Linked DNA regions of Homo sapiens. The protein of the gene in region 3 purifies or fractionates together with the protein of the main gene of each other region. This does not show direct contact. Each region holds a gene or a part of one and is shown on either strand. Other genes may lie near its edges. The genes, in order: WDTC1, GNPTG and PXYLP1.

Region 1 (3,649 bases), on a different chromosome or scaffold from region 3:
AAGCATGGTGGAGCGTGTCTGTAGTCCCAGGTATTCAGGAGGCTGAGGTGGGAGAATCGCCTGAGCCCAGGAAGTCAAGGCTGCAGTGAGCCATGATCACGCCACTGCACTCCAACCTCGGCAATAGAATGGAGTGAGACCCTGTCTCAGAAAATAAATTAATTAGCTCCCTCTCCCTCTCCCCCTCCCCCTCCCCACGGTCTCCCTCTCCCTCTCCCCACGGTCTCCCTCTCCCTCTCTTTCCACGGTCTCCCTCTCCCTCTCTTTCCACGGTCTCTCTCTGATGCCGAGCCGAAGCTGGACTGTACTGCTGCCATCTCGGCTCACTGCAATCTCCCTGCCTGATTCTCCTGCCTCAGCCTGCCGAGTGCCTGCGATTGCAGGCGCGTGCCGCCACGCCTGACTGGTTTTCGTATTTTTTTGGTGGAGACGGGGTTTCGCTGTGTTGGCCGGGCCGGTCTCCAGCTCCTAACCGCGAGTGATCCGCCAGCCTCGGCCTCCCGAGGTGCCGGGATTGCAGACGGAGTCTCGTTCACTCAGTGCTCAATGGTGCCCAGGCTGGAGTGCAGTGGCGTGATCTCGGCTTGCTACAACCTCCACCTCCCAGCCGCCTGCCTTGGCCTCCCAAAGTGCCGAGATTGCAGCCTCTGCCTGGCCGCCATCCCGTCTGGGAAGTGAGGAGCGTCTCTGCCTGGCCGCCCATCGTCTGGGATGTGAGGAGCCCCTCTGCCTGGCTGCCCAGTCTGGAAAGTGAGGAGCGTCTCTGCCCGGCCGCCATCCCATCTAGGAAGTGAGGAGCGTCTCTGCCCGGCCGCCCATCGTCTGAGATGTGAGGAGCGCCTCTGCCCGGCCGCGACCCCGTCTGGGAGGTGAAGAGCGTCTCTGCCCAGCCGCCCCGTCTGAGAAGTGAGGAGACCCTCTGCCTGGCAACCACCCCGTCTGAGAACTGAGGAGCCCCTCTGCCCGGCAGCCGCCCCGTCTGAGAAGTGAGGAGCCTCTCCGCCCGGCAACCACCCCGTCTGGGAAGTGAGGAGCCCCTCTGCCCGGCCAGCCGCCCCGTCCGGGAGGTGAGGGGCGCCTCTGCCCGGCCGCCCCTACTGGGAAGTGAGGAGCCCCTCTGCCCAGCCAGCCGCCCCGTCCAGGAGGGAGGTGGGGGGGTCAGCCCCCTGCCCGGCCAGCCGCCCCGTCCGGGAGGGAGGTGGGGGGGTCAGCCCCCCGCCCAGCCAGCCGCCCCGTCCGGGAGGGAGGTGGGGGGGGGGTCAGCCCCCCGCCCGGCCAGCCGCCCCGTCCGGGAGGTGAGGGGTGCCTCTGCCCGGCCACCCCTACTGGGAAGTGAGGAGCCCCTCTGCCTGGCCACCACCCCGTCTGGGAGGTGTACCCAACAGCTCATTGAGAACGGGCCAGGATGACAATGGCGGTTTTGTGGAATAGAAAGGGGGGAAAGGTGGGGAAAAGATTGAGAAATCGGATGGTTGCCGTGTCTGTGTAGAAAGAAGTAGACATGGGAGACTTTTCATTTTGTTCTGTACTAAGAAAAATTCTTCTGCCTTGGGATCCTGTTGATCTGTGACCTTACCCCCAACCCTGTGCTCTCTGAAACATGTGCTGTGTCCACTCAGGGTTAAATGGATTAAGGGCGGTGCAAGATGTGCTTTGTTAAACAGATGCTTGAAGGCAGCATGCTCATTAAGAGTCATCACCACTCCCTAATCTCAAGTACCCAGGGACACAAACACTGCAGAGGGCCGCAGGGTCCTCTGCCTAGGAAAACCAGAGACCTTTGTTCACTTGTTAATCTGCTGACCTTCCCTCCACTATTGTCATATGACCCTGCCAAATCCCCCTCTGCGAGAAACACCCAAGAATGATCAATAAAAAAAAAAATAAATAAATAAAAATTAATTAATTAATAAAAATAACTACAGGTGGCAATTAGAGTTACAGAGGATATAATTGTTAAAACAAGCATAACGTCTGTCTACTTTAGACAGGATGGTCAGAGAAGGTGCTTCTGAAGAGGTAACTGAAGCTGATCTCCTTAGGATAAGAAAGAGTCCGACATGGGAAGAGCTGGGGACAGAGAATCTCAAGTAGAGGAAAGAGTAACGTGAATGCCCAGAGGCAGTAGAGACCCTGGACACCTGAGGTGGTGAGAAAAAGCTTGTGGGCCTAGAGGTAGTACAAAGGAGGGCAAAGAGGGAGGAAGGTGAGGGCGGAGTAAGCAAATGTTCCCAGTGGAGTTTGTACACAGACAACTGCCCTGGGCAGACAAAGGAGGTTGGACCTCTGCTGGAGGGAAAGAGCTAGGTCTGTAGAAGGAAACACTATAGGATGATGGGATGGGGGAGCGACAGGCTCCACTAGATGCCCCAGACTCTTACCGGATAAGCCCATCCTCAGCAGCACTCCAGAATGTGTTGGGCCACATGGGCGCTGTGGCGATGCGCTTCACCCGGTTTGTGTGGTCTCCAAACATGTGGATGGTCTCCTTTACTGTCAGGTCGTGCACATGCACCTTAGAGTCGGCTGCCCCCGTGATCAAGATGCGGTCCCCAGCGTGAGGCAGGAACTATATAGGAGAAATGGAGGAAGGGGTGGGTGGTAAGAGTAGAAATGGCCACGGAAGGAGGCTAGCCTGGATGTCTGCACCCTTTTCTCTCTCCATGTCAGATAAGAGAATGAGCCCATGCAGGCTGGGCGCGGTGGCTCATGCCTGTAATCCCAGCTGCTCAGCAGGCTGAGGCAGGAAAATCCCTTGAACCCAGGAGGCAGAGGCTGCAGGAAGCCAGAGGCTGCAGTGAGCCGAGATTGTGCCACTGCACTCCAGCCTGGGCAACAGAGCGAGACTGTCTCAAAAACAACAACAACAACAAAAAACAAAACAAACCCTTGAGGTTCAGCAGTAATATACAGCAAGATTGTGTTCAAGCCCAAGTCTGTCTGACTCCCACATGCCCTACTTGCCTCATTATGACTACTTAGTAACCTAGAGATTAAGTAATAAATTAGTCCTGAAGTGAAAAAGACTTTGAGTGTTTAAGGGAATGGGTGTGTGTGGGTTTTTTTTGTTTTTTTTTTTTGAGACAGCGTCTCGCTCTGTCACCCAGGCTGGAGTGCAGTGGTGCAATCTCGGCTCACTGCAACTTCCACCTCCCGGGTTCAAGCGATTCTCCTGTGTCAGCCTCCTGAGTAGCTGGGATTACAGGTGTGCACCACCACGCCCAGCTAATTTTTGTATTTTTAGTAGAGACAGGGTTTCACCATGTTGGCCAGGCTGGTCTCGAACTCCTGACCTCAGGTGATCCACCTGCCTTGGCCTCCCAAAGTGCTGGGATTGTAGGCATGAGCCAGAATGCCCTGTTGGGAGTGAGTGTTTTAAATTAGTTTGACTGCTTCTGAAAAACAATCTGGTAATAGTAACAAAGATTAAAAACAATTTCTAGTTTTTGACTCAAAACTTCCACTTCCAAGAAATAATCCAGGCCAGGCGTGGTGGCTCATGCCTATAATCCCAGCACTTTGGGAGGCTGAGGCGGGCAGATCACAAGGTCAGGAGATCCAGACCATCCTGGCTAACACGGTGAAACCCCGTCTCTACTAAAAATATAAAAAAATTAGCCGGGCGTGCGCCTGTAGTCCCAGCTACTCG
Region 2 (3,649 bases), on a different chromosome or scaffold from region 3:
AGCGGAAGGTCTGCTCGTGCTGGGTCACGTTGTGGAACGGGCAGAACTCATACTTGTACCTGGGGACACAGATGGCATGAGGGGGGTCCGCAGGCTGCGCCCCAGCCCACCCTCGCACCCACCCTGCACTCACGTGGACTCCACCAGGCTGAAGCACTTGCCCGAGAGTCGGAAGAGATGCACGGGTCCTGGAAGAGACCTCACACTGATCCCCAGGGTCCAAGCACAGAACCTGTCTGCAAAGACTGGCAGAGTCTGTTTTCAAAGGACCAGTTTTCTTTTTTTTTGAGATGGAGTCTCACTCTGTCACCCAGGCTGGAGTGCAGTGGCATGATCTTGGCTCACTTCAAGCTCCGCCTCCCATGTTCACGCCATTCTCCTGCCTCAGCCTCCCAAGTAGCTGGGACTACAGGCGCCCGCCACCATGCCCGGCTAATTTTTTGTATTTTTAGTAGAGACGGGGTTTCACCGCGTTAGCCAGGATGGTCTCGATCTCCTGACCTCGTGATCCACCCACCTCGGCCTCCCAAAGTGCTGGGATTACAGGTTTGAGCCACCGCGCCCGGCCAAGGACCAGTTTTCAACAAAAAGCACAAGACGTTCAAAGAAACAGGAAAACAGGTACCATTCAATGGAAGAAACTGACAAAACCGAGAATTCTAAAAATAGCCCTTCAAAAATTAGAGTTAAGGCTTGCTATCGTGGCTCATGCCTGTAATCCCAGCACTTTGGGAGGCCAAGGCGGGAAGATTGCTTGAGGCCAGGAGTATGACACCAGCCTGGGCAACACTGTGAGAACCCCGTGTCTACACAAAAAGCACACAGAAAAAATGAGCTGAGTGTAGTGGCGCGCACCTGTAATCCCAGCTACTCAGGAGGCTGAGGCAGGAGAATCTCTTGAACCCAGGAGGTGGAGAGTGCAGTGAGCTGAGATCGTACCACTGCACTCCAGCCTGCGTGACAGAGCAAGACCCTGTCTTCCCCACCCCCCAAAAAAGAGGACATTCCCAGATAAAAGCTTCAGGAGTTGGTTACATGCAGGCCGGTGTGCCACCCGGGGAAGTGAGCAGACAGCAGCTCAGCGGAGGCAGACGGAGGTCCTCGTGCAGGGTGAATTAATACCAGTTGCCTTTCTAGCTATGGTCTGTAAAGCTACAGGACTTAAACCAGTGGTCCCCAATCTTTTTGGCACCAGGGACTGGTTTCATGGAAGGCAGTTTTTCTACCAGCCGGGGGTGGGGATGGGTGGTTTGGGGATGAAACTGTTCCACCTCAGCTCATCAGGCATTAGATTCTTTTTTTTCTTTTGGAGACAGTCTCACTCTGTCACCCAAGGTGAAATGCAGTGGCGCGATCTCGGCTCACTGCAACCTCCGCCTCCTGGGTTCAAGTGATTCCCCTGCCTCAGCCTCCCGAGTAGCTGGGATCCCACGTGCCCGCCACCACGCCCAGCTAATTTTTGTATCTTCAGCAGAGGCGGGGTTTCACTGTGTTGGCCAGGCTGGTCTGCAACTGTGGACCTGAAGTGATCCGTCCACCTTGGCCTCCCAAGTGCTGGGATTACAGGTGTGAGCCACTATGCCCGGCCTGAAAGACTAACTTCAGATTTAAAGACATAAACAGGTTGAAAGTGAAGGTATGGAAAAGTATTCATATAAACAGGCAAAAGAGAGCTGAAGTGGCTGAAACTATTTTAAGAGACAAAGATGTTATACATTGATAAAAGGGTCAATGTGCCAAGACACCACAATTATCCACGCACAAACAGTGCCACCCACTACATAAAGCTGACATGAGACATCCATACGCCACTTTTTTTTTTTTGAGACGGAGTCTAGCATTGTCGCCAGGCTGGATTGCAGTGGCACGATCTTGGCTCACTACAATCTCCACCACTGGGTTCAACCGATTTTCCCGCCTCAGTCTCCCCAGTAGCTAGGATTACCGGTGCCTGCCATCACGGCTGGCTAATTTTTGTATTTTTGTAGAGACGGGGTTTCTCCATGTTGGCCAGGATGGTCTCAAACTCCTGACCTCAGGTGATCCACCTGCCTCAGCCTCCTAAAGTACTGGGATTACAGGCGTGAGCCCCAGCGCCCAGCCTGATGGATTCAATATTTTTAAGATGACAATACCACCCAGAGTGATCTGCAGATTCAATGCAACCCCATCAAAACCCCAATGACAGTTTTTGCAGAAATAGAAAAACACATCCTAAAGTTCATAGGGAGTCTCAGAGGACCCCAAATCATCGAACAAATCTTAAAGACAGAGTTGAGAGACTCGTACATACTGATTCCAAAAATTACTTCAAAGCTGTTATGATCAAAACAGTGTGATACTGGCATAAAGACTGGCATAGAGGCCGGGCGCAGGGTCTCACGCCTGTAATCCCAGTGCTTTGGGAGGCCGAGGCAGACGGATCACGAAGTCAGGAGATCGAGACCATCCTGGCCAACATGGTGAAACCTGATCTCTAATAAAGTACAAAAAAATTAGCCAGGCGTGATGGCGGATGCCTGCAGTCCCAGCTACTCGGGAGGCTGAGGCAGGAGAATTCCTTGAGCCTGGGAGGTGGAGAGGTTGCCGTGAGCCAAGATCGTGCTACTGCACTCCAGCCTGGGCTACAGAGTTAGACTCTATATGGAAAAAAAAACAAACCCATCAAGGGAGTGAAAAGACAACCCACAGAATGGGAGAAAATAAACACTGGCAAACCACGTATGTAAGAGACTCACATCCAGAACACAGAACTACAGCCCAACAATAAACTCAAGTTAAAAATGGGCAGAGAAGCCGGGAATCCCAGCACTTCGGGAGGCCGAGGCAGGCGGATCATGAGGTCAGGAGTTTGAGACCAGCCTGGCCAACATGGTGAAACCCCGTCTCTACTAAATAAAAATGAGCCAGGTGTGGTGGCTCACGCCTGTAATCCCAGCTACTTGAGAGGCTGAGGCAGGAGAATCGCCTGAGCCTGGGAGGCAGAGCTTGCAGTGAGCCAAGATGGCGCCACTGTACTCCAGTCTGGGCCACAGAGTGAGACTCCATCTCAAAAAAAAAAAAGGACAAACACCATAAGCAACTGAAAAGATCCCACATGACTGATCATTAGGGAAATGCAAATTAAAACAACCCTAAGGTACCGCTTCACACCCACTAGGATGGCTGTTAGCAAAAAACAGTGTTGGTGAAAATGTGGAGAAACTGGACCCCTCGTGCAATGCTGGCTGGAATGGGAAACGGTGCAGCCACTATGCAAACAGTTTGGTGGTTCCTCAAAAAGCTAAACATGGAATTCTAATAAGATCCAGCAAAGCTACTCTCAGAAATTGGAAGCAGAGACTCAAATATTTACACCCAAGTTCACAGCAGCCTATTCCCAGGCAGAGGGTGGAAGCCACTCCAGTGTCCATGGACAGATGACGGGTAAACAACAACGTGGTCTGTCCTTGCAGTGGAACAGTCCTCAGCCATATAAAAAGGAAGCACTGAGAGCCTCCAGCCTGGGGGACCTTGGGGACACTGTGCCAAGAGGAGTTGGTCAGACACAAAAGGTCGCACACAGTTATGAGTCACCTATGTGACGTCTATGAATAGCCAAGTTCAGAGACAGCAGAATGGTGGGTGCCGGGGCTGGGGGAGCGGGGCA
Region 3 (3,649 bases):
CTGGTCCCTAGGAACTGAACCTCTCAAATGGGAGCGCCAAAAATGGCCCCATTAGAGGGTCCTGGCATCACTGTGACAGGGGCCCTGCAAGACGAGCTACAAAGTGTCACTTTTAAAGAACAGCCCTGGCTGTAGTGAGGTAATCCATGGCTCCACCAGGCTCGCCCTCCCGGGGCAGGCTGGCATCCCAGAAGCATTCCATCAAAATAACGTCTTCCCCACTGAGCACTTCATCTCCTGACCTCATTCACTAAACTCTGCTAGAATGTTATGTGCCTCCAGACACATTTGCTGAGGTCTAGCCCAATATTTTATTGCTAACTATGCCTCTAATTTTAGAGCCATGCCATTTCCATACAATTTCCACACTCTGTTCAATTATTTTTCATCCTAAGGGCTTTCAACCAAGAACAGGCTGCCTCTACTCCAGTGAAAAATTAGAAGGGTGAAATAATTCTTACATTTATATGGCTCTGCAATTGCTAACGTGCATTTGTCTGTGTCATCTCACTTACTCTTTGCCCCAACTTTGCATGGGGAGCCTTGTGATCCCCGTTTCAGAGGTAGGAGGCTGAGGCTCAGAGGACACTAAGGGGCTTGCCCGCTGCTCTGAATGGAGCAGGTGAGCTGGGGCGGAGGACTCTTAACTCAGTGCTCACTGTACTGTGTCCCAACTGTTTATTAAAGTGAAAAACATCAGGGTGGGAGGGTGAGCCTCAGACTGGCCTGGGCTCAGTATATCTGCTGTGTTGCTTCAAACAGGTGTCCCCGCCTCTGTGGGCCTCCATCTTTTCAACTGTATAATGGCACTCACATGTAGGACTGCTCTGAGCTCAGGCTCCTGCAAACAGTATGGTTCACCAAGTGTAGGTCCTGTCATTCTCTATCCTACAGGATATAACAGACACTTGAAAATGACTTTTAGAAAAAGTGCAATTTACCTGTTAGCCACCAGAGTGCAGTCAATTTCTGGTCGCTTTGTTTTGGGAATGACATACAGTGGGTACCTGTCTCCGTGGCGAATGAACACATGCACTGAGACCAGCTTAAAATGATGCGGGGCATGACCTGCGCGAGAGAAGCACATTGTCTGGTTATCACTCAATAGGTGTCAATCCTTTTAGAAGGGGGCCAAGGGGATGACCTGGCCACATTTGGGCTGGGAATCTGAGCCGGAGGCAGCAGGGGCCACCGTGGGTTTGCAGAGCCACCACAGTGAAGGGGCCCTGGCTGCCATTCTGGATGGGGGCCACTGAATAGTCTTACAAGGCGGGACAGAGGAACATGAGTAGGCTGATTATGTCCCAGACCTCCTGGAAACAACGGGAGGCTGGTGAAATGCGGGCATGACTACTAATGTGGCCTCACTCACATGCACAGACCAGGGAGAGAGCCACGGAAATACTAGAAACAATGATTTCTGCTTTAAATCTTTCATGAGACCAGAGAAGGCATAAAGAGATCAATAAGGATTCAACACTATGCTCTGATACACTTTTACAAAAGCAAAACTTGTAGAAATTGCCTCACTTCTATGGCAAGACGCCAGCAGGACATCCTGTGGACATCCTGAGTCCCAAGAGGCTACCCTGAAAAGCAGAGTGTCTCAATGTGCTGCACTAGTGCCTGCCAAGGCCACCTTTCTACCTTGCTGCTGTCTCACTAAAGATCATGATGATGGCAAACATTTGTGGTGGGTTGATCGTGAGCCACGTGGTATGTTCAGAGCAGTTACTGAAACCTCCCCAGTCCCAGGCATAAGTCCTGTGAGTTACTCCCATTTTATAGAGGAGAATGCAAGGACCCAGGAACTCATTCAAGGGCACAGCCTGGTGGCAACTGCAGGACTTGGGTCCTGGCCATCTTGCTCCTTACTGCTGTGCAATGCTGCTGGAATAACTAGTCCCCAAAGGGGTATCTGTCCTGGTGGCACAGTCAGGCCTACCTTCCATGCTGCGCTCGGCCACGCTGGGGATGTTGCAGTACAAAAGAGCTTCATAAACGGGGTCTGTCACAGGGGGCTCCGTCACAGGGTCGGGCATGATTCTCTTTCGACTCTTGCTACTCATTCCATTCTTAGGAGTCGACACCGGGATCAGGTGGACTGAAACGAAGTAAGGCAGGTTGTGACGCACAGTTCCTGGGGCGCCAGGCCAGCTGCAAGGCCCAGCGCAGGGCTGGATTTCACTTTGAGGAGCTATTCTTACACTGAGAATCAAGGTGCACTTCAGTGGAGCAGAAGTCAGCTTCCCATTCAAGAAGGGCTTCTGAGCCCCACTGTGTCCTGCCCCTTCGTCACTGCCACTACCCTCTCCTTATCATCTATTCAACACCAGGGGAGCCTCCCAAGCAAAGGGGCCTCTCTCAGGGCAGTTGGAGGAAGAACTCACACACTAACTTCTTAGGACCTGATTACCTCTTCCTAATGCCCTTTAATTCCAGTAACAACAAGAAGGAGGAAAACCATCATTCCTCATTGAAGACCTGCTAGGTGCCAGATGTGGGTGTCTGACATATCCCATTTATCATCATCTGCTTTATGCTTTGTGGGCCTTCAGAGTCGCTCATCTAACCCATGAGAGCACTTTACAGAAGAAAGCCAAGGACCAAGGCATGTGTGGTGGGTGAAAGCCTGTCTCACGCTTACTCCTTGACTTCAGGCCAGCTTCCCTGCCACTGTCTTCGGCGTGGCATGTGTGGGTCTTGCAATCTGTGTGCTTGTCCATCTACTACCCTCATTCCATTAGTGAGCTGACCCTTCACCACCACGTGTGGTCAGGCTGGACTGTCAATCACAGTGTCCCCACCCCCTGGCAGGGGTGGACATGTGACCAGAGTCAATAAGGGTAGTAATGGGGCAACTGGACTCCCTTTCCTCGAGACAGGTGATATACAGACTCTAGAAGAGGTGCTCTTTTTCTTTCGGATGCTAATCTGTAAGAATGGAAATGTGGGGCTGCCCAGCCATCTATCCCTCATGAACAGCTTCTGTCTCAGTGGTCCCTAATCTCTCCGTGCCTAGGGAATGTCTTTGTAGCATCATAGATCCTCTAGAACTCCCAACACAGTATAGTCATACTTTCAGCATCCGCCCTTTGAGGGAAACACATGAAAATAAGTGTGCTCACAGATCTTTTTAACTTCTAAAAGATTTATTAATCACCATAATATCTACACATGCGCACGAACAATAGCTAAAACAGGGACCAACCACCAGCCTAAATCAATGTAAATTCCCTAATTACTTCTACAAATTCTTCTACATAAATATTTAAAACTTCCCTTTGGCAAACAGATGCCATAAACAAAGATAAAAGGCAACACACTGAGAGAAAAATATTTGCAACTAACCTAACAGACAAATGATTAATATCCAAAGTCCATAAGAGACCCTACACCTGAAAAATCATTAAAGGATATGAACAGGCTAATCGCAGAAAAATAAATACCAATGGCCAATAAACACATGAAGAGATGCTTAAGTTTGTTCATAATTAGATACAGATAAAACAACAGTGTGATACTGTTTTTCATAATTGTTTATTCATAATTAAAGAAATATAAATCAAACAGTGGACTATATTAATAATTTTTCCTCATCAAACTGGAAAATCATGTTTTAATGATAACACTCAATATTGGGAAGGGT

The links.
Region 1: the proteins of PXYLP1 (region 3) and WDTC1 purify together in Homo sapiens (affinity purification with mass spectrometry; one large-scale study listed by BioGRID and IntAct). This does not show direct contact.
Region 2: the proteins of PXYLP1 (region 3) and GNPTG purify together in Homo sapiens (affinity purification with mass spectrometry; one large-scale study listed by BioGRID and IntAct). This does not show direct contact.

Annotation. Positions count from the first base shown.
Region 1 is NC_000001.11:27,286,594-27,290,242, reverse strand, and holds part of WDTC1 (WD and tetratricopeptide repeats protein 1), read right to left. Parts: intron 2,570-3,649; coding exon 2,382-2,569; intron 1-2,381. UniProt on the Homo sapiens protein: May function as a substrate receptor for CUL4-DDB1 E3 ubiquitin-protein ligase complex.
Region 2 is NC_000016.10:1,358,282-1,361,930, reverse strand, and holds part of GNPTG (N-acetylglucosamine-1-phosphotransferase subunit gamma precursor), read right to left. Parts: intron 189-3,649; coding exon 134-188; intron 60-133; coding exon 1-59. UniProt on the Homo sapiens protein: Non-catalytic subunit of the N-acetylglucosamine-1-phosphotransferase complex, an enzyme that catalyzes the formation of mannose 6-phosphate (M6P) markers on high mannose type oligosaccharides in the Golgi apparatus.
Region 3 is NC_000003.12:141,276,797-141,280,445, reverse strand, and holds part of PXYLP1 (2-phosphoxylose phosphatase 1), read right to left. Parts: intron 2,105-3,649; coding exon 1,946-2,104; intron 1,069-1,945; coding exon 942-1,068; intron 1-941. UniProt on the Homo sapiens protein: Responsible for the 2-O-dephosphorylation of xylose in the glycosaminoglycan-protein linkage region of proteoglycans thereby regulating the amount of mature glycosaminoglycan (GAG) chains.